7 linked regions of the Homo sapiens genome follow. The protein of the gene in region 3 interacts with the protein of the main gene of each other region in a pairwise test. Each region holds a gene or a part of one and is shown on either strand. Other genes may lie near its edges.

The links.
Region 1: the proteins of PIBF1 (region 3) and SPATA18 interact in a two-hybrid assay, tested with the Homo sapiens proteins (one large-scale study listed by BioGRID).
Region 2: the proteins of PIBF1 (region 3) and ZFHX3 interact in a two-hybrid assay, tested with the Homo sapiens proteins (one large-scale study listed by BioGRID).
Region 4: the proteins of PIBF1 (region 3) and SYT17 interact in a two-hybrid assay, tested with the Homo sapiens proteins (one large-scale study listed by BioGRID).
Region 5: the proteins of PIBF1 (region 3) and ZNF35 interact in a two-hybrid assay, tested with the Homo sapiens proteins (one large-scale study listed by BioGRID).
Region 6: the proteins of PIBF1 (region 3) and PRPF18 interact in a two-hybrid assay, tested with the Homo sapiens proteins (one large-scale study listed by BioGRID).
Region 7: the proteins of PIBF1 (region 3) and C7orf57 interact in a two-hybrid assay, tested with the Homo sapiens proteins (one large-scale study listed by BioGRID).

The regions. Positions count from the first base shown.
Region 1 is NC_000004.12:52,088,864-52,093,087, reverse strand, and holds part of SPATA18 (mitochondria-eating protein), read right to left. Parts: intron 1-4,224. UniProt on the Homo sapiens protein: Key regulator of mitochondrial quality that mediates the repairing or degradation of unhealthy mitochondria in response to mitochondrial damage.
Region 2 is NC_000016.10:72,957,235-72,961,458, forward strand, and holds part of ZFHX3 (zinc finger homeobox protein 3), read right to left. Parts: exon of another isoform or gene 2,961-4,224; 5' UTR 2,912-2,960; coding exon 193-2,911; intron 169-192; exon of another isoform or gene 13-168; coding exon of another isoform or gene 1-12.
Region 3 is NC_000013.11:72,784,610-72,788,833, reverse strand, and holds part of PIBF1 (progesterone-induced-blocking factor 1), read right to left. Parts: intron 1-4,224.
Region 4 is NC_000016.10:19,262,038-19,266,057, forward strand, and holds part of SYT17 (synaptotagmin-17), read left to right. Parts: intron 1-4,020. UniProt on the Homo sapiens protein: Plays a role in dendrite formation by melanocytes.
Region 5 is NC_000003.12:44,651,370-44,655,593, reverse strand, and holds part of ZNF35 (zinc finger protein 35), read right to left. Parts: intron 3,038-4,224; coding exon 2,893-3,037; intron 1-2,892. UniProt on the Homo sapiens protein: May be involved in transcriptional regulation. Involved in cell differentiation and/or proliferation.
Region 6 is NC_000010.11:13,593,203-13,597,426, reverse strand, and holds part of PRPF18 (pre-mRNA-splicing factor 18), read right to left. Parts: intron 1-4,224.
Region 7 is NC_000007.14:48,052,224-48,056,447, reverse strand, and holds part of C7orf57 (uncharacterized protein C7orf57), read right to left. Parts: intron 3,749-4,224; coding exon 3,525-3,748; intron 1,854-3,524; coding exon 1,842-1,853; intron 1-1,841.

The sequences.
Region 1 (4,224 bases), on a different chromosome or scaffold from region 3:
TGGGGGATTTCTGGACAGATTTTCATCACCTGGGTATTAAGCCTAGTACCAATTAGTTATTTTTCCCGATCCTCTCCCTCCTCCCACCATCCACTCTCTGGTGGTCCCCAGTGTCTGCTGTTCCCTCTTTGTGTCCATGTGTTCTCATCATTTAGTTTCAACTTATAAGTGAGAAAGGTATTTGGTTTTCTGTTCCTGTGTTAGTTTGCTAAAGATAATGACCTTCAGCTCCATCCATGTTCCTGCAAAGGACATGGTCTCGTGATCTTCCTATATTAAGACCTATTCAGAGAAGATAACATGTTTTTGTCATTTTTGTGTCCCTCCCAAATCAAGCATCCATCAGATCCAGAAAGAATGTATGATAAGGAGCATGCAGGAGTCACAATAGATGCTCATTAAAGTCCGTAAGGGGGAGTAGATTCAAGATGGCTGAATAGAAACAGCACTGGTCTGCAGCCCCCAGCAAGATCAACGCAGAAGGCAAGTGAGTTCTGCATTTCCAACTGAGGAACCCAGTTCATCTCATTGGAACTGGTTGGACAGAGGGTGTAGCCCATGGAGGGCAAGCCAATGTATGGTGGGGCATCACCTCACCTGGGAAGTGCAAAGGGCCAGAGAATGTTCCCCCCTACCCAAGGGAAGCCGTGAGGGTCTGAGCCTGAGGAACTCTGGCACAGATGCTGCGCTTGTCCCATGGTCTTTGCAACCTGCAAACCAGGAGATTCCCTCCAGTGACTACCTCACCAGGGCCCTGGGTTTCAAGCACAAAACTGGGCAGCCAATTGGGCAGACATCAAACTAGCTGCAGGGGCTTTTTTTTTTTTCTCCCATATCCCAGTGGCGCCTGGAACACCAGCAAAACAGAACCGTTCACTTCCCTGGAAAGGGGGCAATGAACCCAGGCAGCCAAGAGGTCTGGCTCAGCGGGTCCCATCCCCACGGAGCCCAGGAAACTAAGATCCACTGGCTTGAAATTCTCACTGCCAGCACAGCAGAAATCTGAGATCTATCTGGGATGGTCAAGCTTGGTCGGGGAGGGGTGTCCACCATTGCTGAGGCTTGAGTAGGCGGTTTTACAGCCACAGTGTAAACAAAGCTGCTAGGAAGTTCAAATTGGGTGGAGCACACTGCAGCTCAGCAAGGCTGCTGTGGCCAGACTGGCAGATTGCTCCTCTTTGGACAGGGCATCTCTGTAAAAAAGGCAGCAGCCCCAGTCAGGGGCTTATAGCAGACTTAAACGTCCCAGCCTGATGGCTCTGAAGAGAGCAGCAAACCTCCCAGCCCAGCATTCGAGCTCTGCTAAGGGTCAGTCTACCTTCTCAAGTGGATCCCTGACTCCTGTGTATACTGACTGGGAGACACCTCCCAACTGGGGCCAACAGACACCTCATACAGGAGCGCTCTGGCTGGCATCTGGCAGGTGCCCCTCTGGGTTAAAGCTTCCAGAGGAAAGAACAGGCAGCAATCTTTGCTGCTCTGCAGCCTCCACTGGTGATACCCAGGCAAACAGGGTTGGGAGTGGACTTTCAGTAAACTCCAGCAGGCTGACAGCAGAGGGGCCTGACTGTTAAAAGGAAAAGAAACAAACAGAAAGGATTAGCATGTCCACTCAAAGACCCCATCCAAAGGTCACCAACATCAAAGACCAAAGGTAGATAATTCCACAAAGATGGGGAAAAACCAGCACAAAAAGGCTGAAAATTCCAAAAACCAGAACACCTTTCCTCCTCCAAAGGATCACAACTCATAGCCAGCAAGGGAACAAAACTGGATGGAGAATGAGTTTGATGAACTGACAGAAGTAGGCTTCAGAACGATGGTAATAACAAACAACTCCAAGCTAAAGGAGTATGTTCTAACCCACTGCAAGGAAGCTAAGAACCTTGAAAAAAGGTTAGTCGAATTGCTAACTAGAATAACCAATGTAGAGAAGAACATAAATGACCTGATGGGGCTGAACACAGCACAAGAACTTCGTGAGGAATACACAAGTATCAATAGCCAAATCAATCAAGCAGAAGAAAGGATATCAGTGATTGAAGATTAACTTAATGAAATAAAGAGAGAAGACAAGATTAGAGAAAAAAGAATAAAAAGGAACAAACAAAGCCTCCAAGAAATATGGGATTATGTTAAAAGACCAAATCTACATTTGACTGAAAATGTACTTGAAAGTGATGGGGAGAATGGAACCAAGCTGGAAAACACTCTTCAGGTTATTATCCAGGAGATATTCCCCAACCAAGCAAGACAGGCCAAGATCCAAATTCAGGAAATACAGAGAACTCCACAAAGATGCTCTTCAAGAAGAGCAACCCCAAGACACATAATCGTCAGATTCACCAAGGTTGAAATGAAAGAAAAAATGCCAAGGGCAGCCAAAGAGAAAGGTTGGGTTAACCACAAAGGGAAGCTCATCATACTAACAGTGAGTGAATCTGTCTGCAGAAAACCTACAAGCCAGAAGAGAGTGAGGGCCAATATTCAACGTTCATTAAAGAAAAGAATTTTTAACCCAGAATTTCATATCCAGCCAAACTAAGCTTCATAAGCAAAGGAGAAATAAAATCCTTTACAGACAAGCAAATGCTGAGGGATTTTGCCATCACCAGACCTGCCTTACAAGAGCTCCTGAAAGACGCACTAAACATGAAAAGGAAAAACCGGTACCAGCCACTGCAAAAACAAACCAAAATGTAAAGGCCATTGACACTATGAAGGAACTGCATTAACTAATGGGCAAAACAATCAGCTAGCATCATAATGACAGGATCAAGTACACACATAACAATATTAACCTTAAATGTAAACGGACTAAATGCCCCAATTAAAAGACACAGACTGGCAAACTGGATAAAGAGTCAAGACCCATCAGTGTGCTATATTCAGGAAACTGATCTCACGTGCAAAGACACACATAGGCTCAAAATAAAGGGATGGGAGAATATTTACCAAGCAAATGGAAAGCAAAAAAAAGCAGGGGTTGCAATCCTAATCTCTGATAAAACAGACTTTAAACCAACAAAGATCAAAAGAGGCAAAGAAGGGCATTACATAATGGTAAAGGGAACAATGCAGCAAGAACTAACCATCCTAAATATATATGCACCCAATACAGAAGCACCCAGATTCATAAAGCAAATTCTTAGAGACCTACAAAGAGACTTATACTCCCACACAATAATAGTGAGAGACTTTAACACCCCACTGTCAATATTAGACAGATCAATGAGACAGAAAATGAACAAGGATATTCAGGACTTGAACTCAGGTCTAGACCAAGTGGACCTAATAGACCTCTACAAAACTCTCCACCCCAAATCAACAGAATATACATTCTTCTCGGCACCAGATAGCACTTATTCTAAAATTGACCACATAATTGGAAGTAAAACACTCTTCAGCAAATGCAAAAGTATGGAAATAATAACAAACAGTCTCTCAGATCACAGAGCAATCAAATTAGAACTCAGGTTTAAGAAACTCACTCAAAAGCACACAAATACATAGAAACTGAACAACCTGCTCCTGAATGACTACTGGGTAAATAACGAAATGAAGGCAGAAATAAAGATGTTCTTTGAAACCAATGAGAACGAAGACAACTTACCAGAATCTGTGGGACACATTTAAAGCAGTGTTTAGAGATAAATTTATAGCATTAAATACCCATAAGACAAAGCAGGAAAGATCTAAAATTGACACCCTAACATCAAAATTAAAAGAACTAGAGAAGCAACAGCAAACAAATTCAAAAGCTAGCAGAAGGCATGAAATAACTAAGATCAGAGTAGAACTGAAGGAGATAGAGACATTAACAACACTTCAAAAAATCAATGAATCCAGGAGCTGGTTTTTTTAAAAAAGATCTGCAAAATAGATATACTGCTAGCCAGACTAATAAGGAAGAAAAGAGAGAAGAATCAAATAGACACAATAAAAAATGATAAGAGGGGTATCATCACTGATCCCACAGAAATACAAACTACCATCAGAGAATACTATAAACACCTCTTCACAAATAAACTAGAAAATCTAGAAGAAATGGATAAATTCCTGGACACATACACCCTCCCAAGTCTAAGCCAGGAAGAAGTCGAATCCCTGAATAGACCAATAACAAGTTCTGAAACTGAGGCAGTAATTAATAGCCTACCAACCAAAAAAAGTCCAGGACCAGACGGATTCACAGCTGAATTCTACCAGAGGTACAAAGAGGAA
Region 2 (4,224 bases), on a different chromosome or scaffold from region 3:
AAACTCTTCCATATGTACACACACAGTTCAAGGGATTCTTGAGAATACTTGATTGTAAGACACTCCAGTTTACACAAAAACCACTCGAGAAGACCAGAGTCAACTGAATCCACAGGACTATCTCACCCTATTCACCATTCTCCCTGGTTAAACTCCTATCATGAAAACAGACAAACACGTAGTCATCCTCACCTAGAGCAGGCGTCATGGCGGCCATGGGCCCGGCGGGATCCAGCTGGAATCCGCTCATCATGAACTGGGCGTCCGAGGCAGCACTGTCCATCTTCAGGTTGGGCAGGTTCATGTTCTGGGCCAGGTAGTATTGGTAGAGCTCGGCCTCGGCGGGTGAGGGCAGGCTGCCGAGGCCCAGGTGGCGGTTGTGTTGGATCTGGGTCATGTTCTGTTGCAGTAACATCATGTTATGCATGTGCTTCTCACTGGTCATGTGAATGCGGAGGTTCCTGGCCACGTTGGTCTCATAATCACACACCTCGCACCGCCAGGTGGGTTTGGTTTTTGGTTTGGTCGGCGAGGGGGCCCCGCAGGAGCTACTGATATTGGCTGCCGCCGCCGCCGCAGCCACCGCCGCCGCCGCCGCCCCGGCAGTGTGGCTGAAGACCTGCTCCCCCCCTCCATTCTGCAGGTTCTGCATGTTGTTGAGATGCTTGTCAGACTGCATATGAATACTGAGGTTGCCTTTGGTAGTTGTGGAGTAGTTACACACCTCGCAGCGGAAAGGCTTGTAACCACACGTGTAGCTCTCGCCTCGTGCCAGCCGGGGGTGGGGCTGCCCGCTTTTGCAGTAGACACAGGAGCCCCCCGGCTCCGGGTGCTTCTCCTTCATGTGTGCCTCCAGGGTCTGCTGGTACTTATAGTGCCAGTTGCACTTGGGGCACTTGAGTGTCTTACACGAGTTACGAGAATGCATCATGGTCATGTGGCCGCCCAGCGAGCGGGAGGAGCCCAGGACCGTGTCGCATTTGGGGCACTCCACGCCACTCCCCGAGGGGCACTCCCCAACCCCAAGCTCGCAGAGGGAGCCAGCGTGCTGGTGATGGGGAACGAAGCCCCCATCGTCACCCTCTGTGCTTTCATTTGGTTCTGGTGCTGTGGCATTGTCTTTATTGGCACTTTCGTCAGCGAAGTCCAGCCTCCTGCCGCCCTCTGCCACATTGGCCCTGACGCCCTCACTGTTAAAGCTTAAACGATTCCTCCTGTTCGCACCATCAAAGACAACAAAGGAAGAAGCAGAATTAGAACTAGTAGAAGCTGTGCCCCTCGACAGGGTCTGGAGCACGTTAGGCATTAAGGGGGAGTTAGAAATGCTTTGGTTTGAGAGAGCAAGGTCCTTTTTGCTGCTACTACCTGCTGCGGCCCCAGGCTCCTCATGGGGCCTGTCCTCCAGTTCCTCATCCAACTCGCTTGGAAAGAGTCCTTTGCAACCCTCGTCTTCCTCCTCCTCTTCTTCCTCCTCCTCTTCTTCCTCCTCCTCCTCCGCCTCTTCCTCCTCCTCTTCCTCCTCCGCCTCCTCTTCGGCTGGCTCTACCTTCTCAGAGAAGCAATCCCCGTCGCCCACTTCCTGCTTCTCTCCTTCTGCCGCCCCAGAGTCCTTGCCCTCTGAGGATTTGGTAGGACTGGAAGCCAGAGGCCCCAGGGGGACTGAGGTAATGGGGGTCTTCAGTACCGAGCTGGTGAGCCCGCCAAGGTTCAACAGGGTGCTGGGGGTCAAGAGACCAGCCTGGGGCTGCTCGGGGCCAGCGGCGGAGCCCGCTGGGAGAGCTTCCTCCCCTTCCATTCGAATGCCACTAAATTTACCATAAAAACTGTGTCCGGGGCCTATGAGGTTAGCTGTGGAAACTAAAGGGTGTTGAAAGTTTTTGTTTTTTGGTTCCAGAAAACTTACAAGGGGTTCCTTGTCTTTGCCGATCCCTTGGATGATAGCGGAGATGTTCTTATTGCTAAGAATTTTCCGCTCGTCTTCGCTCAGGGTCATTCGATGGTCATGCACCGCGTGGGTCACAAACGAACGGACGTACCCAAAGGAGAGTTTGCACAAGAAACACATCAGGATGGGCTTCCTCTTGCCATAGAGCACAAAGCCATCGAATTTGGACAGGTCCACATTGTTGGGAACATCTTTGGATACGCAGGAGCTTTTGGCAGAACCGTCGCTGTTCAGGTAATCCTTGTTGCTTTTGTGTCGCACGTCAAACACGCGGAAGCTGTGCAGGACGGGGCTGAGCCCCGCCAGGGCTGAGGTATTCGGGAAAGCCTGGTCTGGGCCCTCAAACCATTTCCCGAAGGATGAGGCTATGTGGAAAGTGTTGATGATCTGCGGGTACACGGGTGCAGCACACGAAGGGTCCCCTTGCTTGCCCCCCGCGCCAGGGAGAGAGTTCAGGAAAAGCGAGGGGAGAGGCCCACTGCCACTGCCACTCCCACAGGCGCCCCCGCCCTGGGTCAGCTGGCTCAGGCTCTCCACAATGTACGCGGAGCCGTCCGGCTGGTAGACGATCTCCCCGGCCAGGTTCTCCACGTCACTCTCCTCGTCCCCCTCCTCACCGGTGTCGCTGGCGCTCTCCTCTCTCAGGGGTGGCGGGGGGCGCGCGCTGGGGCAGTGGTGCTCCATGTAGGTCTGGAGGCTGGCAAAGGAGGCCGAACATTCGTTGCAGGTGACCTCCTTGCTGGCGGGCTCGGAGGGGGGCCCGGCCGACGCGGTGCTCTCCGCGAGGCGCTCATTGAAGGGGGCCCTCAGGCTGTCCAAGGGCCCGTGGCTCTCGCCTGTGGACTGCTCCATGCTACTGGGTTTGTCAGGGAGGTGGGTGCTGTTGAGTTCAGTCCATTGCTGGTGCTGAGGGATACCGCACCCATTGTCCTTCCCCGAGACGACGGGCGAGTCACAGCCTTCCATGGTAAGGCCTGCGTGGAGCTTTCATTGCACCCAGTACGGAGGCTCGGACCTGAAGGGCAGAGGCAAGGGGGGAGGAGGGAGAGAGGGGAAAGAGAGAGAGAAAGGAAAGAGGTTAGGAGGGCCGAGGCTGAGGTCCTACCGCACGGAGCGCTCTAAGAGGCTTCTGTCCACAACACAGAGACACAGGGCGGAGGGCGGGCCTGGGGACACTGCCCCACACGGTCCAGCACACAGGGGTGGCATGGCCGGGTCAACAGCCTGAGCGAGGGATATGGGGAAAGAAGGCCAGGAACAGCCCTCTTCGGCTTCGAATTGTCACCGCTCTGCCCCTGAAGACTAGCGGGAATTTCCATTCTTTGCCAGCATAGCTTCGATGGGCCACAGTGGAGAACGGACGCGTCATCTCTCCAGCCCTCTACGAGGTCACAGCCACAGCCCTACCACTTATGGACAGCTCACACGAAGTCAGCCCCGACTCCGCGCACTGTCTGTGGGTCAGGGGAACACAGGGGAGGGCTGAGAAGAGGGAGGTTCAATGTCCCTGGAAAAAGGACGGTAAAGTGGGATAACGCTCATGGATTTAGAACAATTGCAGCCGTCGCTTTTACTGACCATGGTTCTAGTTTGAGAAGTTCAAAGAAGGCGGGTGAGGACCCTGAGGTTCACAGGGCAGGTGTACAGGACTAGACACACTCCGAAAAGTCCTCTCCAGATCTGGGAGGCGTCAGTCCCATTTTACAAGCAGTAAAACAGAGGGGCTTCAATCTAAAAACTGGCTCAGTGCTAATCTCACCACCATGAAACAGAAGAAAAGATGGGTCCCCAGATTCCTGTCTCCTCCACCCATACCAGTCAAGCTCCCTGGCCTGTGACTCTAGCTGACTTCAGACTAAAACTACGTAGGTGCAAAACGTGAGCTTGGTATTTCCAGCAGGAATGGACCAGACTCTGGATCTGCCAACACCCCCTCCAGCAGCTTCTATCTGGCCCTGGCTGGAGGGAGTGCGTTCCCCACGTGCCTGGTGGTTTTTGCTATCAAGGATCTGAGCAGCAAGCCGAGACGGCAGCTGGGCTCGGCGAGCCCCAGCTCCACACCTGCCTCTTAGTTATTAGTCGCTACCCAACCAGCTGTCGTTCAGCCCTGGGGCTTTTCCATTTCCGACTCCAAAGTGCCACTGAGCTGAATGTGCCCTCTGAGACCTCATGTCCCTGGGGAGGGAGGCATCGGATCACGGCCGCTCTGCTCCTGCAGTAATATCATCGCAGGGGCGATCATTCCGTCTGGCCCTGCTCCTACAGGCAGCTCAGCACCT
Region 3 (4,224 bases):
AAAAAGATTTTGATGGGTAGAAGAAAAAACTTACTTGCCTCCCAACATCAAACCTTCCCTTCTTTCTGACATACTCTGGTTTTTATTAGTAACAACATGTCCAGTTAGCTTCCCATCCCTTGTAGGTAGGGGTGGTCATGCTATACAATGTTAGTCAATTGAGGCCACTGGCTTGAACTTCTGGAAGAACTCTTTAAAGAGGACTGACTCATTTGGCACATGCCCCCTTTTCCACTATCCTTCTCCTTATTACCACCTTTTACATGTACACAATACTGGAGGCAGATAAGCTATCTTATGATTTCAGGTGAAAAGCATATGTTGAAAATAGCTAAGGTTAAAAGGAGCCTGGGTTCCTAATGCGATCAAGGAGTAATCACTTGAGGTCTACTAAAATACCTATTTTTGGATTTTTGTTATACCAAAGAAACAAAATCCTTCTCTTGCTTAAGCCATGGTTTCCAGGTCTCTGTTACCAGAAACCACCATTTTTCAAGTCTCTGGTATTAACTGCTGAACTTAATCCTTGAAACCCTGGGCAGTTGGTTCAATCTCTTTCCAAAATAGAAATACCTATAATATTTATTAACAGTTGACTATTCAGGACTACTTAAATGCTTCCAATGACAGGAAGCTCAGAAACTTAAGATCAGGCCATTTCAATGTTAATAGCAATAACAGGCTTACACTGAGCAGAAATCTACCTTTCCTGTGACTTCCAACCATTATCATGGAGCTATAGTCTAGTGAGGAAAATTTATTTTTCATAACGTTAGCATACGATGCTCAATAAGCTTTGGAGAATGAATGACCAATTAAAAATACCTTTCTTTCAAGACCTAGGCTTTAAGTTTCCTGCCCAGGCTAAAAAGTGTATGGCATGGCTGGGTGCAGTGGCTTCACACCTGCACTTTGGGAGGCTGAAATGGGTGGATTGCTTGAGGCCAGGAGTTCGAGACCAGCCTGGCCAACATAGTGAAACCCCCATCTCTACCAAAAATACAAAACTTAGCTGGGCGTTGTGGCACGGGCCTACAGTCCCAGCTACTCGGGAGGCTGAGGCACAAGAATCGCTTGAACACAGGAAGTGAAGGTTGTAGTGAGCTGAGATCATGCCACTGCACTCCAGCCTGGGCAACAGAGTGAGACTCTGTCTCAAAAAAATTAAAAGAAAAAAAAAGTATATGGCAGCACTACCAAATTGAGCCCCTTTCTTCTTCACTTAAAAATTCAGAGAGGATGCTACCAGATAGATTTGAATCAAATACCGCGTGGTGTTACCAGATCCATCAGGCTTTTGGGGACCCTGTTCATTTCAAAATACCCCATGAACCTTCTTTGCTTTCTTCTAGAGCTGGACCTCATTGAAACACCAAGAAAACAAACAGCTCTAACACCAGGAGTCCAATATACTTCTGAGTCCTCACAATCGACCAGAGGGACAAAATTCAGTGGGGTGTACTAGCTTTAGAATCACTGCTCACAAGAAACAGTGTAGCACTTTGTTCATCTGGAGTGCTTCACACATAAAGACAAAAATAAAGACATAACTAAACATATAATAACACATACAAATAAAGGTGTTATTTTAAAACATATAAAGAAATATGTCACATACCAATTTATACATAAACAAATAAGTGAAAAAATATATATCATGTGTGTAGTGCTGTTTGCCTGTCTAAGGTGTTATTCCCAGGGCATGTAAGAAGTAAACATATATATACACACATACACACATTAACATACATATACATATTCTTTAATAAAAATATTTTTTAAATATTCTTTCATCAACTCCAGACTCACACTTTCTCACATTTTAACATCTCTAAAATTGGAATGCATTTTACAATCTAAGGCACTTAACAATTCAACTGGAAGTGTTTAACCTTAGCAATGTATGTAATGATGCATCTTACAACAGAGGTGCTTTAGGTTCAATAAATTATGGAAGGCTAACTCTACAATAGGTATTTCTTCATATATTTGAGAGCAAACATCTTATTCCTAAAGAGTCTTCAAGCAGAGAATCCTGAGTGCTCGTATGATAGAGAAAAAAACTCTACTAATATACAGCAGGGCAGCTATTTTGGAGATAACCTGGCAGTACACTTAGTTAAATGAAGGAGACATTTATATATGTCAAAGACATGCTCACAGAGGTCCAGAAGAGAAATGTCTAATGCTGCATGTGTTGCAAGGAGCTGGAGGCAATCTGGATGCCTAGCAATGTAGGAGTAGAAAGACTGGTAGACGCACACAAAGAATTACATAAGAGTTGGAAGCAAAGGACTAGATGTATACAAAGTAATAGATAACTTCAAAAACAGTGCTGAGTAGGAAAAAAGAGATGAGAACTAAAACAAAGCATATAATTTACATTTCTGTAAAGTTAAAAGATACACATTCTCAAGAATACATGTAAACAAAACATTAAAATGTTTGCATTAAGAAATGGAATGAGCTATAGGAATGAAAAGAATAAATACATTAGAAAAACAGCAGCCTTTCAGGGATCAATGATGATTATGTGTCAAACTCAGGAACACGACTATTGCAATCTTCTACATTTTCAGTCAAACTAGAAAACCACAACAAAAACTACACTAAGCACCATGGAAGTAGAAAAATAATAATATTGTGCTGAGTAAGTATAGCTACAAATAAAATAATATGTAAATAATAAGTTTATTATTAGTATACACCAAGCATCTATGAGCTTACATACATTGATTAATCCTCCCGATAATTCCACGGAATAAATACTATTATCATTTTATAGGAAATCACGGAATAAAAACATTAAGGAATTTAGTAAGGCTGGAATTCAAAACCCAAACTGTGTGCATCTAGAACTGTAATTTGGATTTGTTACACTAGAGAGCCTGTCATGAATCAACCAACATTTCTATAATATAAAGCTTACACCTAAAAAGAAGCAAAGCCATTGACAACCAAGGACAATGCAAGTTGAAAACAAATAATACAAGAGGTGGCTGAACAAAATGTAAGTCTGGATATGGTATACAGGTGGCACTTAAAAAAATACTTGTTGACTGAGTGGGTGAATTAATGAATGGGAGATAACCTCAGGTTTCTTCAATGAGTTGCACTAAGGTCTGGAGAGGTGAAGGTAGATGGAGTTCATGTGAAATGCAAAAAGAGTAAGGGAATAGGGATGGGAAACCACTGGATGCATGGATAAACTACCAAGTGACCTAGACTAGGTAGGTGACTGTATAGGGTACCTAAAAGAAAGTGTTTGGAGCTTCACTTGTGTAGAGTATAGGCTTTAGACTTCCTAGGTTTGAATCCTATCTGGCTCTATCACTTTCATCTGAATGGCCTTGGGTATGCTATTAACCACCTAGTGGCTTTGTTTAATCAGAGCAAAATGGGGTTCAGTCATTCATTTAAGAAATAGCTGGGCACTTAATTTGTGTCAGGCACCGTTCTAAGTGCTGGAAATACAACCATGAATACAAAAACATCCCCGTCCTCATGGACCTCATAGTCTATTCACAGACAAATAACAAACAAATTCAGTCCGATGGCCATAAAAGGCACAGAAAATGAAAGGGATGAAACAGATAAGGATGCTATGTTAGTTGAAAACAACAACGGCTAATACGTCTTGTGTGCTTATTTTTTTTTCTCCCCTCAAAATTTGTATATTGAAACCTAATCACCAATGTGAGTAGCAGGAAGTTGGGGCCTTTGGGGTGATTAGGTTATAAGGGTAGAACCCTCACTGTTGGGATTGGTGCCCTTATAAAAGTGATCCCAGAGAGCTAGCTGGGCATGGTGGGGAGCACTTGTAATCCCAGCTACGTGGGAGACTGAGGCAGGAGAATTGCTTGAACCCAAGAGGTGGAGGTTGCAGTGAGCCAAGATTGTGCCACTGAACTCCAGCCTGGGTGACAGAGCAAGACTGTCTCCAACAACAACAACAAAAAACAACAAAATACCTCATATGTTAGATTTTTTAAATTGAGCCTACAAAAGTAATTTATCCATATCTACGTTTAAATCACTCCATATTTCAATACTTAAATTATTATTATTATTTTTTTGAGATAGGGTCTCACTCTGTTACCCAGGCTGGAGTGCAGTGGTACGATCTCAGCTCACTGCAATGTCTGCCCCCGGATTCAAGTGATTCTCCCGCCTCAGCCTCGGAAGTAGCTGGGCCTGCAGGCGCAGCACCACTACGCGGGGCTA
Region 4 (4,020 bases), on a different chromosome or scaffold from region 3:
GGATATCTGCAGTATAGGGGGTCTTCAAAATCACCCTCAGGTCCAATGATTCACCACAGAACTTGGAAAAACTGTTATTCTCATGGTTACAGTTTATTACAGAAAAAGCATACAGACCAAAATCAGCAAAGTGAAAGATTGCTGCTATGGTCTGAATGTTTTGTTCCCCCAAAATTCTTATGTTGAATCCTAATCCCCATGTGGGAGGTGATTAGACCATGAAGGCTCTGTCCTCATGAATGGGGTTGGTGCCCTTATAACAGAAACCCAAGAGAACTGTCTTGCTGCTTCTATTGCATGAGAAGGCACCACCTATGAAGGAGAGCAAGCCCTCACCAGACACTGAATCTGCTGGTACCTTGATCTGGGACTTCCTAGCTTCTGGAACCATTAGGAAATAAATTCCTGTTGTTTATAAGCCTCCCTGTTTATGGTAATTTGTTATAGCAGCCCAGCAGACTAAGAAAGGGGAAAGAGTCCTCTTTGTCATAGGAAAAAGTCCAAGAGAGACCAGATGCAAGCTTCCAGTTGTTCTCCTCAACTGGAGTTATACGAGCAGTGCCTAATTCTCCTTGCAAGGATGTGTGACAACACACTTAGGGTATTGCCACCCAAGAAGACTCACCTGAGCCTTGGTGTCCAGCATAGTTAGAGGACGTTGGTCATATAGTCATGGCTGACCATCTGGGTAGCTGAGCCTCCTTGCAGAGGTAGCTTGCAGAGGTCCAGCTAATGTTGAGTGGCCCAAGGTCCTCACCATAAATCACAGTTAGCACAGACAAGCTGGCATGGCTCAGGCAGGAAGCTGCAGGTGCTTGAGGAAGGACACTATCTATAGAAACCATGAGTAGCCTCCAAGGTGGGCTGAGGGGTAGGCAGGGCACCAACAGCCCCAGCTACACTCCCTCAGGGACAGTCTTGCCATTTCCCGTTTTTCATTCTTATAAACAATGCCCTGGTGCAGGGGTCAGCAAACTTTTCTATAAGGAGTCAGATAATCTTTTTTTTTTTTTTGTATTCCCTTTTGGCAATTTGTTTAATTGAGATAAAATTCACATAACTTAAAACTCACCCTTTTGGTGTATACGATTCAGTGCTTTTTAGTATATTTTCAAGATTGTGCAACCAACACCACTATCTAATTCCAGAACATTTTTATCACCCCAAAAAGGAGCCCTGTGCCAATTAGCTATCACACCCCATTCCCTCTTTCCTCTATCCTTGATAACCACTAATGGTAATTTCTGTCTCTAAAGATCTGCCTATTCTGGACATTTCATATAAATGGATCATAATATATGACCTTAAAAACTTGGTACATAGGCCAGCCATGGTGACTTATGCCTGTAATCCCAGCATTTTGGAAGGCCGAGGTGGGCAGATCACCTGAGGTCAGGAGTTCAAGACCAGCCTGCCCAATGTGGCAAAACCCTGTCTCTACTAAAAATACAAAAATTAGCCAGGCATGGTGGTGGGCACCTGTACCCAGCTACTTGGGAGTCTGAGGCAGGAGAATCACTTGAGCCCGGGAGGCAGAGGTTGCAGTGAGCCGAGATCACGCCACTGCATCCCAGCCTGGGTGACAACAGTGAAATTACAACTCAAAAAAAAAAAAAAAAAAGAAAAGAAAAAAAAAACTTGGACATAAATGTTTACAGTAGCATTATCCATAATAATAGTCAAAATGTGGAAACAACCCAAATGTCCATCATCTGATGAACAGATAAGCAAAACATGGCATATCCATACAATGGAACGTTAGCTGGCCATAAAAAGTAGCACTACAACATGGATGAACCAGACAGATAGCAGATATGTGAGGCTTTGAGAGCCACATGGCCTCCAAATTATTCAGCTGCTGTGGTCTGAATAGTTGTCCCCCACCCTGCCAAATTTGTATGTTGAATTCCTAACCCACAAAGTGATGGCATTAGGAGGCGGGACCTTTGGGAGATGATTAGGTCATGAAGGTTGGAGCCCTCATAATTGGGATTAGTGCCCTTATAGAAGATGCCCCAGAGAACTAGCCTGTCCCTTCCACCATGTGGGGACTCAGTGAGAAGATACCACCTATGAGGAAGCAGCTTCTCACCAGACACCGAATTTGCCAGTGGCTTGATCTTGAACTTCCCAGCCTCCAGAACTGTGAGCAATAAGTTTTTGTTGTTTATAAGCCACCCAGTTTATGGCATTTTGTTACAGCGGCCTGAATGGACTAAGACATCAACTCTGCCCTTTTTGCACAAAAGCAGCATTATGTAAACAAATGGGTTTGACTGTGTTCCAATAAAACTTTATTTACAAAAACAGGTAGTAGTCCATATTTGACTGGGAGGCTCTAGTTTGCCCATTCCTGCTATATAAAATATCCTTGTATGTGTATTTTTGTCCATTTGTGCAGAAAATTCTATGGGATCAATTCCTAGAAGTGAAATTGCTGAGTCATGAGTTATGACATATTTATTTTGAACAGATGCTGTGAACCACCCCAAAATTTGAACCAACTTGCTTTTCCACCAGCGGCACATGAGAGTACGTGAGACTGAGATTTCCCCCACCTTTTTTTTTTTTTGAGACAAGCAAGGTCACTTTGCTACCCAGGCTAGAGCCAGTGCAGTGGCACCATCACTGCAGCCTTGACTTCCCTGGACTCAGGTGATCCTCCCACCTCAGCCTCCTGAGTAGCTGGGACTACAGGCACACACCACTATGTCTGGCTGATTTTTTGTATTTTTTAGTAAAGGCAGGGTTTTTCCATGTTGCCCAGACTAGTCTCAGACTCCTGGGCTCAAGCGATCCACCTGCCTCAGCCTCCCAAAGTGCTGGGATTACAGATGCGAGCCACCGTGCCCAGTCAGAATTTCCTTTCTTAAAGCCCTTTCACAAAGAAGTAGAACCCATACCCATTTAGAAGGGAAGTTTCTGCATTGTCATTCTTGAGCTTTGGAGAGGAAGAAGAAGATAGAACATTTTGCCCCCAAAGAAGAAAACTAAATGGGGCCTGAAGTGGTCTCATAATAGTATCTTATTTTAGATTTGAGGCTCACAGGGAAGGGGACTCTGGTAACTTGTCCTCATTTGGTGAGATCAAACCTTACACTGCCCACTAAGTGTCATTCCTAAAAGCCTTGAGTGTTACCTGTTCAATTATTTTTTCAAATGCAGAGAGCTCCTTAGCAATTTCATTTATTAAGCAAAGCTTCCATTCCTATTATTTCTCTTTGTAAGTAATTTGCATGTAAATGAGGTCCACCTATGCATACTGAGCATGTTACCAAATGTACAAAAAATATACATGGTCCAATTTTTCTCCACAGAGCTGACAGGTACCCATCCCTCTTGCTGAAGATGACATAGTATTTCACGTAGCCTAGTTTTCCCTAAGTCTTTTTGGCTTTTGGACGATGGATGGAGTTTTTGTTTTTATTTTTCCATTTTTCTTTTTTCTCCCTCATTTTCATCATTTGGAATTCGTGGTGTGAAACCCACAGGGGAGAACAGAGGCTCATTAGCATTCAAGCTCTGTTTTTGGCAGCATATTTTAGTTGCTTTATATGATATTCAGCATCCCTCCTGGGATCTAGCCTGCCTTTGCTCGGCTCACGCTGGGTGAATCTGTGATATTTCCCATTCTGTAGCCCTTCATTTATAACACAGGCATAGCCTGCTTTCCCATTAGTGAGATGGCATGCCTGGACTACCCACACACAGATCAAGAATTAGGCGGAACTTGGCCGGGAAGATAAATCAAGTTAACCGTCTCATTAGGCTTGAAAGACACAAATTAAGCTGAAGTTGGGATTAACAGAGAAGCCTTTCAAAGAGACATGCAGCACAACAAGGGGTGGAAGAAGTTGCCGTAGCCATTACTCTCAGAAAATTTCCAGCATTTGATGGAACAGAGGAAACATGAAGTCTCTTTTATAAAAGGTCAACAGACAGAAATTTAGGCTCAAAATAGCAGTATAACATTTGTTGAGCTCTTACCACCTGCTTGGCACTGTGTGCTGAGAGCTTTAC
Region 5 (4,224 bases), on a different chromosome or scaffold from region 3:
TGAAATGGTATTTTTCCTTTTTTTAAAAAACATGTAGGATTACTGTAGCTCTAGAGAAATTAAATTAAGTACAGAAATAATGAAAAACTAAAACAAAAACTAATTTGTGACCAACTAGAACACAGGCATAGCCATAGTTTTTAAATCAATACTCTTCTTTCACTCTTTTTTTTTTTTTAAAGATAGCTGAAATGCTACATAAGCCTGCCACCTTAGCTGGTGACTGTATTCTGAGATAAGAAGGGTAATTTGATTTACTAAATTTATAAGTCCAATTCATTAGATTTATAACAGCTGTGTTTATCAAGATTTTATTTACAAGATTTGTAAGTCTGCCCAGTTAGGTGTTTGGAATGTTTTAAAGAACTAAAGATATCAAATTTGTAATTATGTTTTATATAAAGAAATTTGATAAGCAGGTAGAATTAAATGTTTAAAATTTTTAATTAATTTATTTTTTTAGACAGAGTCTTGCTCTATTGCCCAGGCTGGAGTGCAGTGGTGCAATCTTGGCTCACTGCAACCTCTGTCTCCCGGGTTCAAGCGATTCTCCTGCTTCAGCTTCCCAAGTAGCTGGGACTATAGGCACGCACCACCATGCCTGGCTAATTTTTGAATTTTTAGTAGAGACAGGGTTTCACCATGTTGGCCAGGCTGGTCTCGAACTCCTGATATCAGGTGATTCACCCGCCTCCGCCTCCCAAAGTGCTAGGATTACAGGCTTGAGCCACTGCGCCCGGCCAAAATGTTTAAAAAATTTAATCTGTAAAATTTGAAGCTTAACTGAACATAAGTTAAAGAAAAAATACAAATGTTCTCACTTTTATACAAATATTTCTAGATGTATGGATGAAGTAAAAAGTTATGCTTAATGGCTTAAAAATTGGTTTTTAAATGAATAAACTTTAATAAATTCAACATTAATTAAAATATGAAAACTACAGTTAAAACTTGCTCAGACATTAAAAACCCAGTAACACATCACAATTTCCAAAGCACTTTCATGTATATTATACAATTTCATCATGAAGATGAAACTGTTCTCCTTCAGCTAAAAAAAGAGCAAGGTTGTGTCTTATTCATTTCTGTATCTCCAGCACCTATCACGCTGCCTGACACATAGGAAGGAGGCCGCCAACAAATCCTGTACTTAATGAACACACCCAATTTGTAGAACAGGAAATGGAGGTCCAGAGAGAGAAGGGACTTACTCAAGGTCACAGAGTTATTACAGGCAGGGCAGCAACCCCACTCAGATATCTCTCACACATAGAGCTCAGTGTTCCCACCATCGCCTGCTGACATCGCCATGGAAATAGTGTTGGCAGTGTTCCTGCCATCGCCATGGAAATAGCTGGCAGCACAAAATACTAAGTCTTGGGTATGAACATGGTCTTGAGGTAAGAGGCAAAGTAGGAAAAGGGAGCCCATTCCTGATGAGGTGCAGCTGTTGGGGTTAAGACTATGAATGGCTGATAAAGCTCAGAGACAGAAAATAAGTGACATGCACGCGAATGCACCAGAGAGAATGGAACACAAAGCAGAAAGTGGGGAACAGAAGCTGCTAAGAGTTTGGGAATAATTAAATATGAGACAAGAAAATCTAGGTGGAGATCCTTGTCTTCCCCATAGCACTGGTTTAAGAAAGTGACTTGGTCCCCAGATGCCTGAGGAACTGGTTAGGGAGGAGAGTGGGTTCAAAATATTCAATATCTGGCAGACTCATAAAAAGAATAGGGCTTGGCAATCAGCCAGTAAGTGCTTTGAAACACAGGACTCATGGCTACTGCATTCTTGACCCTCACTTATATGTCACTCCTCCACAGGCAAGCTTCTGCCACTGCCAGTGAGATCTTTAGAACATACTACCCTTTCTCTAGTCCTAGCTTAGAGAGAACAAGTTGATAAGCCATCAGTACCCTTCACGAAGACCTAGTTTTGAACATCATTATGGTTAACACAGCTGCTCAAAATCCTCTATAATTTGCACAAAGATCTATGAAAACAGAACATCTCCAGGGCATTTGCTCAAAATCACCACAAAAGTTGACTGTTCCTACCTCGGCTAGCATCTCTTGCAGGCTCACCAACCTATGCTAACTACAAAGCGTATAAAAAGGACATGTGCCTACATGTGTGCACAGAGATGAAACTCATTGAACAATAAATATCACTAAAAAGTGAGTTTGGAATTCACCTATTGTATGGTAAATACACCTGATGGCAACAACTTAAGCATACCCTGAGAATGATCCTGTATGGCAGACACACCTGAATATAGTTTGGAGTTCCAAGCAAAGGAATCCAGAAGTGGCCAACCTGGAGATCCATTCCTTATCCATTCCCCACCCCTTTCAGTGGAATGCGGGCCTTAAAGGGGATTGAGGCCCCTTGTTTTGGGTTAAATTAAGGCTGCCAGGTGGAGGTCATTAGGGAGAGGGTGTTAAGTGAAAATGCGACATAAACCGCATGCCTTTTGCAAGCAGTTGCAGCTCTCCTGTCCAGCCTGTGCCACTGGGCCATGTGGTTCTCCCGTGCCCAGTCCACTGCCTCTAGACTGTCTACCCTGTACATAAACACCTAGTAAAATTCTATGTTGTTTGCTGGCTCTGGGTCTCTTCTTCAGCCTCTTGAACCTGGTACCATATTGGTGTTGATCAGGTTTCAGCACAACACCTATGTTTGTCTAGTGTCTTGAGCCTGTGTGCAAAATAAGCCACTTCCCATGACAAATGCACAGGCATTTCAGCATTCCTCTTTCCAGCTTTCCTGGACACTTTCAATACCTCAGTACTCTGTTGGTCAACCTAGGAGACTGGATGCCCACCAGTCTCTGAAAAGATTTTGAGAAACCCCAATGGTCAGATTCAGAATCAGGGAACTGAACCATACCTAGAAAGTTCATGGTCCCATGAGTCTCCAGTATCTCACTCTTGGCCAGAGTCCCTGGTAATGAGTAGCTGCCAAGGGTTGAAGCAGCAGGTGCCTCCTGAGTTGCTTTCAGGACTACCGCCATATCCCAGGATATGTTCTGACCCTAGAGACAAGCAGGCACATGTTTAAGAGGGAACTGGTGGTAGGGGGTAGTGTGGTTACAATTTTGAGAATGAGAACATAATTATCTATTCCTGGAGGCCATAGAACAATTTTTAAAAACAGAAAAGGAAGCCAGAGTCTCCTCCAACCCCCAGGGTGAGTTGGGCAGAGAAACAAGCTAGCTACTTTCTTCCTTATTACTTTGATTGCACCTCACTGCTCACTCCAGAATCTAAACCTAGCTTACCAGTGAGTACATGATAAGAGGAGAGAGCATATGGGAAGAATTTTCAGAGTGAACTTTTGTGGGATCTAAAGATCAAAGCAGCAAGGTTTTGATGATATTATTACAGAAAGGCTCTGGGGGAACCTCTGCCCTCATTTGACTAGTAATGGTAAGGGGTGTGTTTGAAACATTAAGGACAGCACAGTGTACAGCCTCATGAATCAAAGTGTGGTGCAAAGATCAGCAGCAGTATCTGCATCACCTGGAAGCTTGCAAAACAAACAAACAAAGAACACAGAATCTCAGACCACCCCCAGACATCCTCAATCAGAATCTGAACTTTAACTGTTTTAACAAGAACCCCTAGGTGATTCCTATGCACATTAAAGTTTTAGAAGCTCTGGTTAGCATTGTCAAAACCTGACTGAAATTACCTGAAGAGTTTTAAAAAAACATGGATACCCAGGTCCCACCCTTAGATTCTTTTTTTTTTTTTTTTGAGGCAGGGTCTCACTCTATTGCCCAGGCTAGAGTGCAGTGGCATGAATTCGGCTCACTGCAACCTATGCCTCCAAGGCTCAATCAATCCTCCCACCTCAGCCTCCCAAGTAGCTGAGACTACAGGCACGTGCCACCATGCCAAGCTAATTTTTTGTATTTCGGCATTGCAAAACACGAGGTGTGCAATGTTGCTCAGGCTGGTCTTGAACTCCTGACCTCAAGTGATCCTCCCGCCTTGGCCTCCAAAGTGCTGGGATTACAGGTGTGAGCCACTGTGCCTGGACCACGGATTCTGATTTAATAGGAATAGAATACAGTATGGACATCAAGATTTTATAAAAAGCTCTCCAGGTTCTGTGTAGCAAAATTTGAGAACCACTGGTTTACAGAAAGTACTGAATGTCACATCAATCAGAAGGGAATGTTTCTATCCTATTACAAAAGACTGGAAGCTAGAATTG
Region 6 (4,224 bases), on a different chromosome or scaffold from region 3:
TATCCTTGAGCAAAATTTCATGTCCCATAGTCAACAAATACCTTTAGAAAACTTTGGAAACACTCTTCAGTTTTTCAAGAATTGGATAAAATAAATATTTTTTGGTTCCAGAGATGAATACATTGATTCCCCAAGCACATCAACAACCCTCCACTACGACTATGGGCACCGATATGTGGTAAGTTCAAGTATTTTTCTTGCAGTATCAATCAGTAGGCAAGTCCATCAGCAAAGAGGAGACCAAGAATATTTTCCAAATGTTTTCACTTCTTAATGTCTGAGTTCAATGATAATTTCTTCAAATGGATTCATTATGAAACACATAAAATGGTATACCTCAATTATTTTTTCCTAACAGAAACAAAATTATGACATATATAGCCTACATTTGATATCCCACATAACAAGGGAACTCCAGGAGTGTAAGTTCTTTCTTGTTACCTGGAACCTTATTATATCAATCAGTTCTTAAAATAATCTACATATAGGGTGGTCTTGGTGAACTCTTTTATTTAAAAAATGATTTAAGGATATTTGGGGTTTTTTGTGCGTTTTTCTGGTTTTCTGTTTGTTTTGGAGACAGGGTATCTCTCTGTCACGCGGGCTGGAGTGGAGTGGCACAATCAAGGCCACAACTTCGACTCCCTGGGTTCAAATGATCCTCTCACAAGGTATTTGTTGTGATATGATTTGATGTAAAGAGACAAGCTCTAAATCTTGTCTGTGGCTAAAAAGATGTCAGTCCTTTCCACATTATACATAAAATTATCCTTATTGTTACATCTACAGTCCGTAATTTGGAGGCTTGTTGCCATCGCAGCTCTGCCTCTTGGATATTATTCCAAAGATGGCTTTGTTCAAATAAAGACACTGTCCCCGACTGTATTAACAGTAATGATATAATATTACCTGTGTACTACCTCCACACAAGTATTTAGCACCTCATAGTTCCAAAGCTCATTCACTCAGACAATGATCATCAATGGATGCTAAAACCTTATGAAAAAGGCCAATGGTGACAATGGAAAGATGAGCCTGCCACCATTTGAACCCAATGATCAAGCTTGACATCAGTAAAAGATTATGTACCACCTATGTTATACTACAGGAATTACCCAGCCATCGTCTACGAAGTATCCTTGTTAAATGTAGGGAAGAGAGGAATTAACTAAGTGTCAATATGCCAGGAAGCAATTACACAAATCAAAGACATTTTACAAAACTAGCCCCAGTTTCTCCAGCAAGTCAATGGCATGGAAAAAATCAGCCAAGTTGAGAAAATGACAACGTTCTTCATTAAAAGAAACCAAGATTCATAATAAGCAAATGCAAGGATTGAACTTCGTGTTGACCTGACTTGAAAAACCAACTGTAAAAGCAAATGTATGTACATATTTTAATTCAGTTGGAAAATATACGAATGTGAGAAGAGTATCTGATAAAATTAACAAACTAATTTTAATTTTGTTGGGTGTGATCATATTTTGGTTTTAAAGGAACATGTCATTTTCTAGAGCTGCATGTTTCAGGGGAAGGATATACAGGGGCTCATCATAAAATTTTATCTATTTTTGTATTATGTTTAAAACTTTCAGAATAAGGTTTTTCTAAAAGTTCATTCCTTAATTCAATAAACATTTCCAGACTTATCTACCACACAACAAGCACAGTTTTACGGAAATAAAGATGAAGATGTTATCTGGGGTAAGGAACCGATGGTATCATCTGAACATCAAAACTACCCTGAGTACGGTGGGGGCAAATAGTATTAACCCCTTTTTAGAGATGAGAACGCTGAGAATTAGGTTAGGTGACATTCCCAGAACTCAGGAAGAATGATGAGTAGCAACTAGAACTCTGGTCCTTAAACCCTTTGTTCTGATCTAGTCTTCCAAGCTACAGTTCTTCACTCCCAAAATATTATTTCGGCATCTAAAATTGTTTTTGACTAGGTAGTATATAATTGTCATATTTCAAATAAGTTGGCAAACACACATTGGTATCCTCTCAGAAAGGGCTGTGTAGAAAGAAAGGAAAAAACACTCTCCAGGCCGGAGGCCATGGTCCAATCTTTTTAACTATGTTATCTTTGATGACCATGTCTCAATTCCATTGAACACACCTAACAAAATCTCAAGCCTAGAACATCTCAAAATGTGGTCCACAGAGGCTCTTTCAGAGGTTTTGCAAGGTCAAATTTATTTTCATGATATACTAAGACATTATGTGCCCCGTTTTCATTGTGCTCAGATTTGCACTGACAGTCCAAAAGCAACATGGGGGGAGGATTTGGGAAGGGGGACTACTGGCATCAGCAAAAATAAAGGCAAGGCCTTCAAACTGTATTCTTCACCAACATGCACTTACAAAAAAATAAAAAGTCTAGTTTCTCTTAAGAATGTCCTTGACGAAGTATAATTAGCATAATTTTCCTAAATCTCAACCTTTGAGTACACAGCCTTTTAATAATCAGCATGAAAAAATAAAATGTATAAAGCACTTTTGTTACATACTAAAGTAGAATGGTTTCCTCAAAGAAAAGCACTTGTGCAATTGTTTGATTAGTCAGATTTGGGTGTTTGGTAGACATTTTCTCAGAACTGAACAAAACAAGCTTAAAGCTAAAAGAAAACAATGATAGTATTTACCACCGATGATAAAATTCCAGCTGTCAAGTGAGAACTGGAAAAGTGGAAAACTTGTACCCACCACCAGGAGCTTAATAGCTTCCCAATACTTGAAGCCTTTTCCAATGAAATCAGTGGTGATATTAATGAGATTTTTTAATATTATCTAATCAAAAATGTCAACATTAAGAAGATCTGCATAATTCACTGAACCATGACATTACAAAATCAAGATGTTACAAAATCACATCTAGGTAAAAAGATCCATTCAAAGAGCAAAATAGAACAGGCTTTAATGTATGAAAAGTTCATTGAAATGATTTCAGAATCCACATTGCAACTGATCTTTAAGAAACCAATTGTCTAGTTTTGGTGTAGTATCAAGAAGAATATCCACAATTATCTGAAAAGGCTATTAAGATACTCCTTTTTCTAACTACTTATCTGTGGATGAATTTTCTTCGTGTACTTGAAAACAACATACAGCAACAGACTGGAGAGAGAAATAGAATCCAACTACTATGCCAGAGGTTTCTAAAACAATGTCACTTTTCTCACTGAAGTGTTTGTTTTCGCAAATATAGTCTTTTCATAAAAATATCTGTTAGCATACTATGGGTTTATTATTGCATTTCTACATGGAATATACATTTTGTAATTTCCTGGCTTTAATTTCTAATACGGTAATTATCAATAAATGTGTCCTATGTAAATAAAAGCTCTCTGGGTCTATCAATAATTGAGAATGAGACCTGAGACCAGTAAGTTTAAGTCCACTTGGCGTTCTCCATGCCTATAGCATGCGCAAAACAATGCTGGCAAAAACCACTGGGGCCTCAACATTGCCTATTGGTCCTGGGGTATTTACCCATTTCATTTTCTTTCCTATTGTCTACACTGACCATTCCACTGTCTCCATTCTCACGAATTTCCCATCCTTTCATTCTCCCCTCATTTTCAGCAGATGACTAAACCATCTCATTTTATGGAAGCAACCAGTCAGGAACTCCTCCAAATTCCTCCCAACTCCAGTCATGAGCTGGATCTTCATTGGTCCTTTCATTTCACAGTGAAACAGAGAACCCTCCTCTGTCTGTCTAGGGCAAATCCCTTGCCAATTACTCCAGACCTCAATTCCTCAGGGACTTCTCACCATCAATGCTGTTTTCTCCTTCGCATATTCATCCTTCCCCTCTCTACTGGCTCTTGACAATTATAATTTAAGTATGCTCAAGACTCTGCCCTGGGTATCATTTACAGCAGAACCACATTAAACTGTTTAATCTAATCCGTGTCCACTTCCTTACCCCCAATTCTCTTTGCAGCCCCACAGCATGTGGACATCCATTCTGTTTCACTGAAAAAACCTCCTTGGGGTCATAAATAATGTCTAAGATACAAATCCAAAGAGACTTCTCTGACTGATCTCATCCAGTCTTCGATTTAACTGCTCATTCCTTCCTTCCTTCAGTAACTTTCTCCTCTTAGCTGACAGATTCTTCTTATGTCTTCCTCACTTACTGGTTTGCTTAGATTTTCTATTTCTTGTATTTTTTTGTACTTTTTAGCCATTTACTTCACTTAGATTTTCCAATGT
Region 7 (4,224 bases), on a different chromosome or scaffold from region 3:
AAAAGTTTCTGCAAGCAAAAGAAACAAACAACAAAAGACAAGCCACAGAGCAGGAAAAATATCTGGAAACCATACATCTGATAAGGGGTTAATATCCAAAATGTATAAGGAACTCAACTCAGTAGCAAAAAAACAAATAATCCAATTTAAAAATGGGCAAAGGACTTACATAGACATTTCTCAAAAGAAGACATGCAAATGGCCAACAGGTATATACAAAAAAGCTCAAAATCACTATCATCAGGGAAATGCAAATGAAAACCACAATGAGATATCATCTCACACCTGTCAAAATGGCTATTATCAAAAAGATGAAAAGCAAGTGTTGATGATAATGTGGAGAAAAGGGATCCCTTACATACTGAAGGTGAAATGTAAATTAGAATAGCCATAATGGAAAACATTATGGAGTTTCCTTAAAAAACTAAAAATCGAATTCTCGTATGATATAGCAATCCCACTGCTGGGCATATATCAAAGGAAATGGAATCAGTATGTCACAAAGCTACATCTGCGCTCCCAAATTTTCTGCAGCATTATTCACAATAGCCAAGCTATGGAATCAACCTCACTGGCCATGAACAGATGAATAAGGAAAAAAAATGTGGTATATACATGATGGAACACTATTCAGCCTTTAAAAAAGAAGTAAATTCTGTCATTTGTGACAACATGGATGAACCTGGAGTACATTAGTCTAAGTAAAATAAGCCAGGTACAGAAAGACAGATACTGTATAATTGCAGCCATATATGGAATCTAAAAAAATTGAACTCATAGAAGTAGAATAGAATGTGTTACCAGGTGCTGGGGATGGGGCAGTAGTTGATGGGGTAAGAGGAGAAGTTGGTCAAAGGGTGCCAAGTTTCCCTTAGACAGGAGGAGTTAAGTTTTAATTATCTATTTCACAGCAAGGTGAATAAAGTTAATAATAATATATTGTATATTTCAAAATCATTAAAAGAACAGATTTTAAGTGTGATCACCACAAAAAAAGGGTAAGTATTTGAGGTAATGGATATTTTAGTTACCTTGATTTAATGATGCCACAATGTATACATATATCAAAACATCGCATTGCACCCCATAGTTGTATACAATTATTATCTGTCGATTTAAAATAAAATAAAAAGTAAACTAAAAAATAAATTGGAGTCTCCGATGGCTTTTTACTTATGTTTTCCAGTATGACTCTCACATGACGAGTAATACAATGTGTGTCCATGAACTAAAGTATGTTTTTGCTTGTGTAACATGAATAAAAGAATAATAGGCCAGGCGCGGTAGCTCACGCCTGTAATCTCAGCACTTTCGGAGGCCGAGGCAGGTGGATCACGAGGTCAGGAGATCGAGACCATCCTGGCTAACACGGTGAAACCCCGCCTCTACTAAAAATACAAAAAATTAGCTGGGCGTTGTGGCGGGCGCCTGTAGTCCCAGTTACTCGGGAGGCTGAGGCGGGAGAATGGCGTGAACCCGGGAGGCGGAGCTTGCAGTGAGCGGAGATCGCGCCACTGCACTCCAGCCTGGGCGACAGAGCGAGACTCCATCTCAAAAAAAATAATAATAATAATAATAATCATCATCATCATCATCATCATCTTCATCCTGTTGTAATTGTGTAAGCGATCCTCTTTTTGCTCTCCCTAAGTTAAGTTTCTGGAACTCTGATTTTTTTAAAGCATACATGGCACAAGCTTTGTAGTCAGAATGCATGCAGTTTGGAGAAGGACATTCCAGGCTGCCTAGAGGCTGTAGTCTCAGAATGCAGGACTATGTCCATCAATTTCTTTGTGTAAGACTTTTTGTGTTTTGGTGCTGGTTACTTTATAAGTACTCACTTTGAGAAGACTCTGTAATAAAAAGTACATTCGTTGTTCAGGTTAATGAAACAGATCAAGTATTAAAAGAAGTCATAATTACTTAAAGATTTAATGAAAATTCTGTATTACTTAAAACAACAATAAGTCATAAAACACTCTTGACATTGTAAAGTTCAATAGGGCAACAAACCTTTTTTTTTTTTTTTTTTTTTGAGAGAGTTTCCCTCTTGTTGCCCAGGCTGGAGTGCAGTGGCACGATCTCGGCTCACCGCAACCTCCGCCTCCTGGGTTCAAGTGATTCTCCTGCCTCAGCCTCCCGAGTAGCTGGGATTACAGGCATGTGCCACCACTCCCAGATAATTTTGTATTTTTAGTAGAGACGGGGTTTCTCCATGTTGGTCAGGCTGGTCTCGAACTCCTGACCTCAGGTAATCTGCCTGCCTCGGCCTCCCGAAGTGCTGGGATTACAGGCGTGAGCCACCATGCTCAGCCAATAGGGTGCTTTTTAACAACACTGAGTATGAACTTGTCACCATCTCATCTTCCAGGATAATAAAGGAGAGAGTTGGCCAATAAGTGGCAGATCTTGTTCAACAAATACAGTAAGGAACAGGGTGTAGAATGGCAAACGGTGACCTCACTTACAAATAACCACACCACACCAAACACTTCAAATGTCTGAAGAGGTATAACACGCCATCTTTCCTCTTAATCAAAGAGCTCAAGCCTCAAGAGTAAAAACAGGTTTCCCAGAAGCAAATGGTCAATAATTAATAGAGCTATGGATACTGAACACAATGTCAATAGGCTTTAAGATGGATGTGTTGAAAAAATAAGATGAATTCTTTCTGTACTATTAAAAATAAAAATGAATGGCTGTGCACAGTGACTCACACCTGTAATCTCAGTACTTTGCAAGGCAGAGGCAAAAGAATTGTTTGAGCCCAGGAGTTTGAGACCAGCCGGGGCAATATAGTGAGGCCTTGTCTTTATGAAAAATAAAAAAATAGCTGGGTGTAATGGTGCATGTCTATAGTCCCAGCTACTTGGGAGACTTAGATGGGAGGATCGCTTGAGCCCAGGAGGTTGAGGCTACAGTGATCTGTGATTGTGCCACTTCACTCCAGCCAGGACAACAGAGTAAGACTCTGTCTCAAAAAATAAATAAATAAAATAAAATATTATAATAAATAAAAACTAATATAGTACTTTGAACATCTAATTGTGGAGAAAGTTCTAAATTATTCAAAGCTTAAGACATGCCAATAATGGAGTAATTTTAAGTTTGAATTTTGACTTATTTTCAAAGCTTTTTAAGAAGTGATCTCAAAAAGTACCGGCTGCTTATGCAAAAGTCCTTTTAGGGTCAACATTGTTTGGATCTGGAAGATTAAAAGTTGATACTATTTGGTATATTATTTGTTTGTTATATCAAATGGACTATCAAAATTTTTGACAAATAAAAGAAAATGTGAAACCCCAAAAGTCATGACTTCCGCTATTCATTTGAATAAAGAGGAAAGAGCAAAACATGTATTACTCTCTTGCTTATCTGTAACCTTAGTACTTCTGTGGGCGTTTTCACATGGTTTTTGGGTTACTCATTTCTCATTACGAGACGCATCATGTGATAAGAACGTCAGCTGCTGCATCACAATTAACCAAGCCTCCAATAAATGCAGATGGCTGCTTGTGCCTCACCTGGGGTGTCCTCAGGACCTTCAGAAGCCTCTGCATCCTGGAGCCTGGCTGCATCCTGGGGACCTTCCAGGTCTCGTGGGGACTGAGATAACACTGATGCCCTGGAGGTCTTCGGGGTCCTCTTGTCTGAGTCAGCTCGCTGCTGCTGCTGCAACCACTCATCCTTATAACCATTGCTAATGAGTTTGGAAAAATTGGTAGGTGAACTGTTTTTTTGACCAGGCCTTAAAAAGAGTAAAAGTAATGTGAAACTTAAGTACAAGGGTTAATGATAAAGCAGAAGCAGTATTCCGTGAACACACCAAATAGGAGGTGTCACTGTCCCTTTAAACCTAACAAACCTCTCTCTCTCTGTCTTTCCCTCTCTCTTTCTCCCTCTATCTCTCTCTGCCCCTTTGTCTCTCCCTCTGCTTCTCTGTCTCACTGTCTCCATTTTTAAGCATAGCAAGTGCATGTCAAAGCATCCCTTGTACAGGGATGAGAGCATGTTTAGTTCAGCTTCCAAAATCTTTCTTTGTGATAGTCAATTAAGAATTAGTAATAATTCTAGTATTTCACAGGGAAGCCTTCCTAAGAAAACACCATGCCCTTCCCTCATAGTAATGGATTGCTCAGAACTACCTTTAAAAACAAAACAAAAAACAACAACAAACTGCTGGGTGCCGTGGCTCACGCCTATAATCCTAGCACTTTGGGAGGC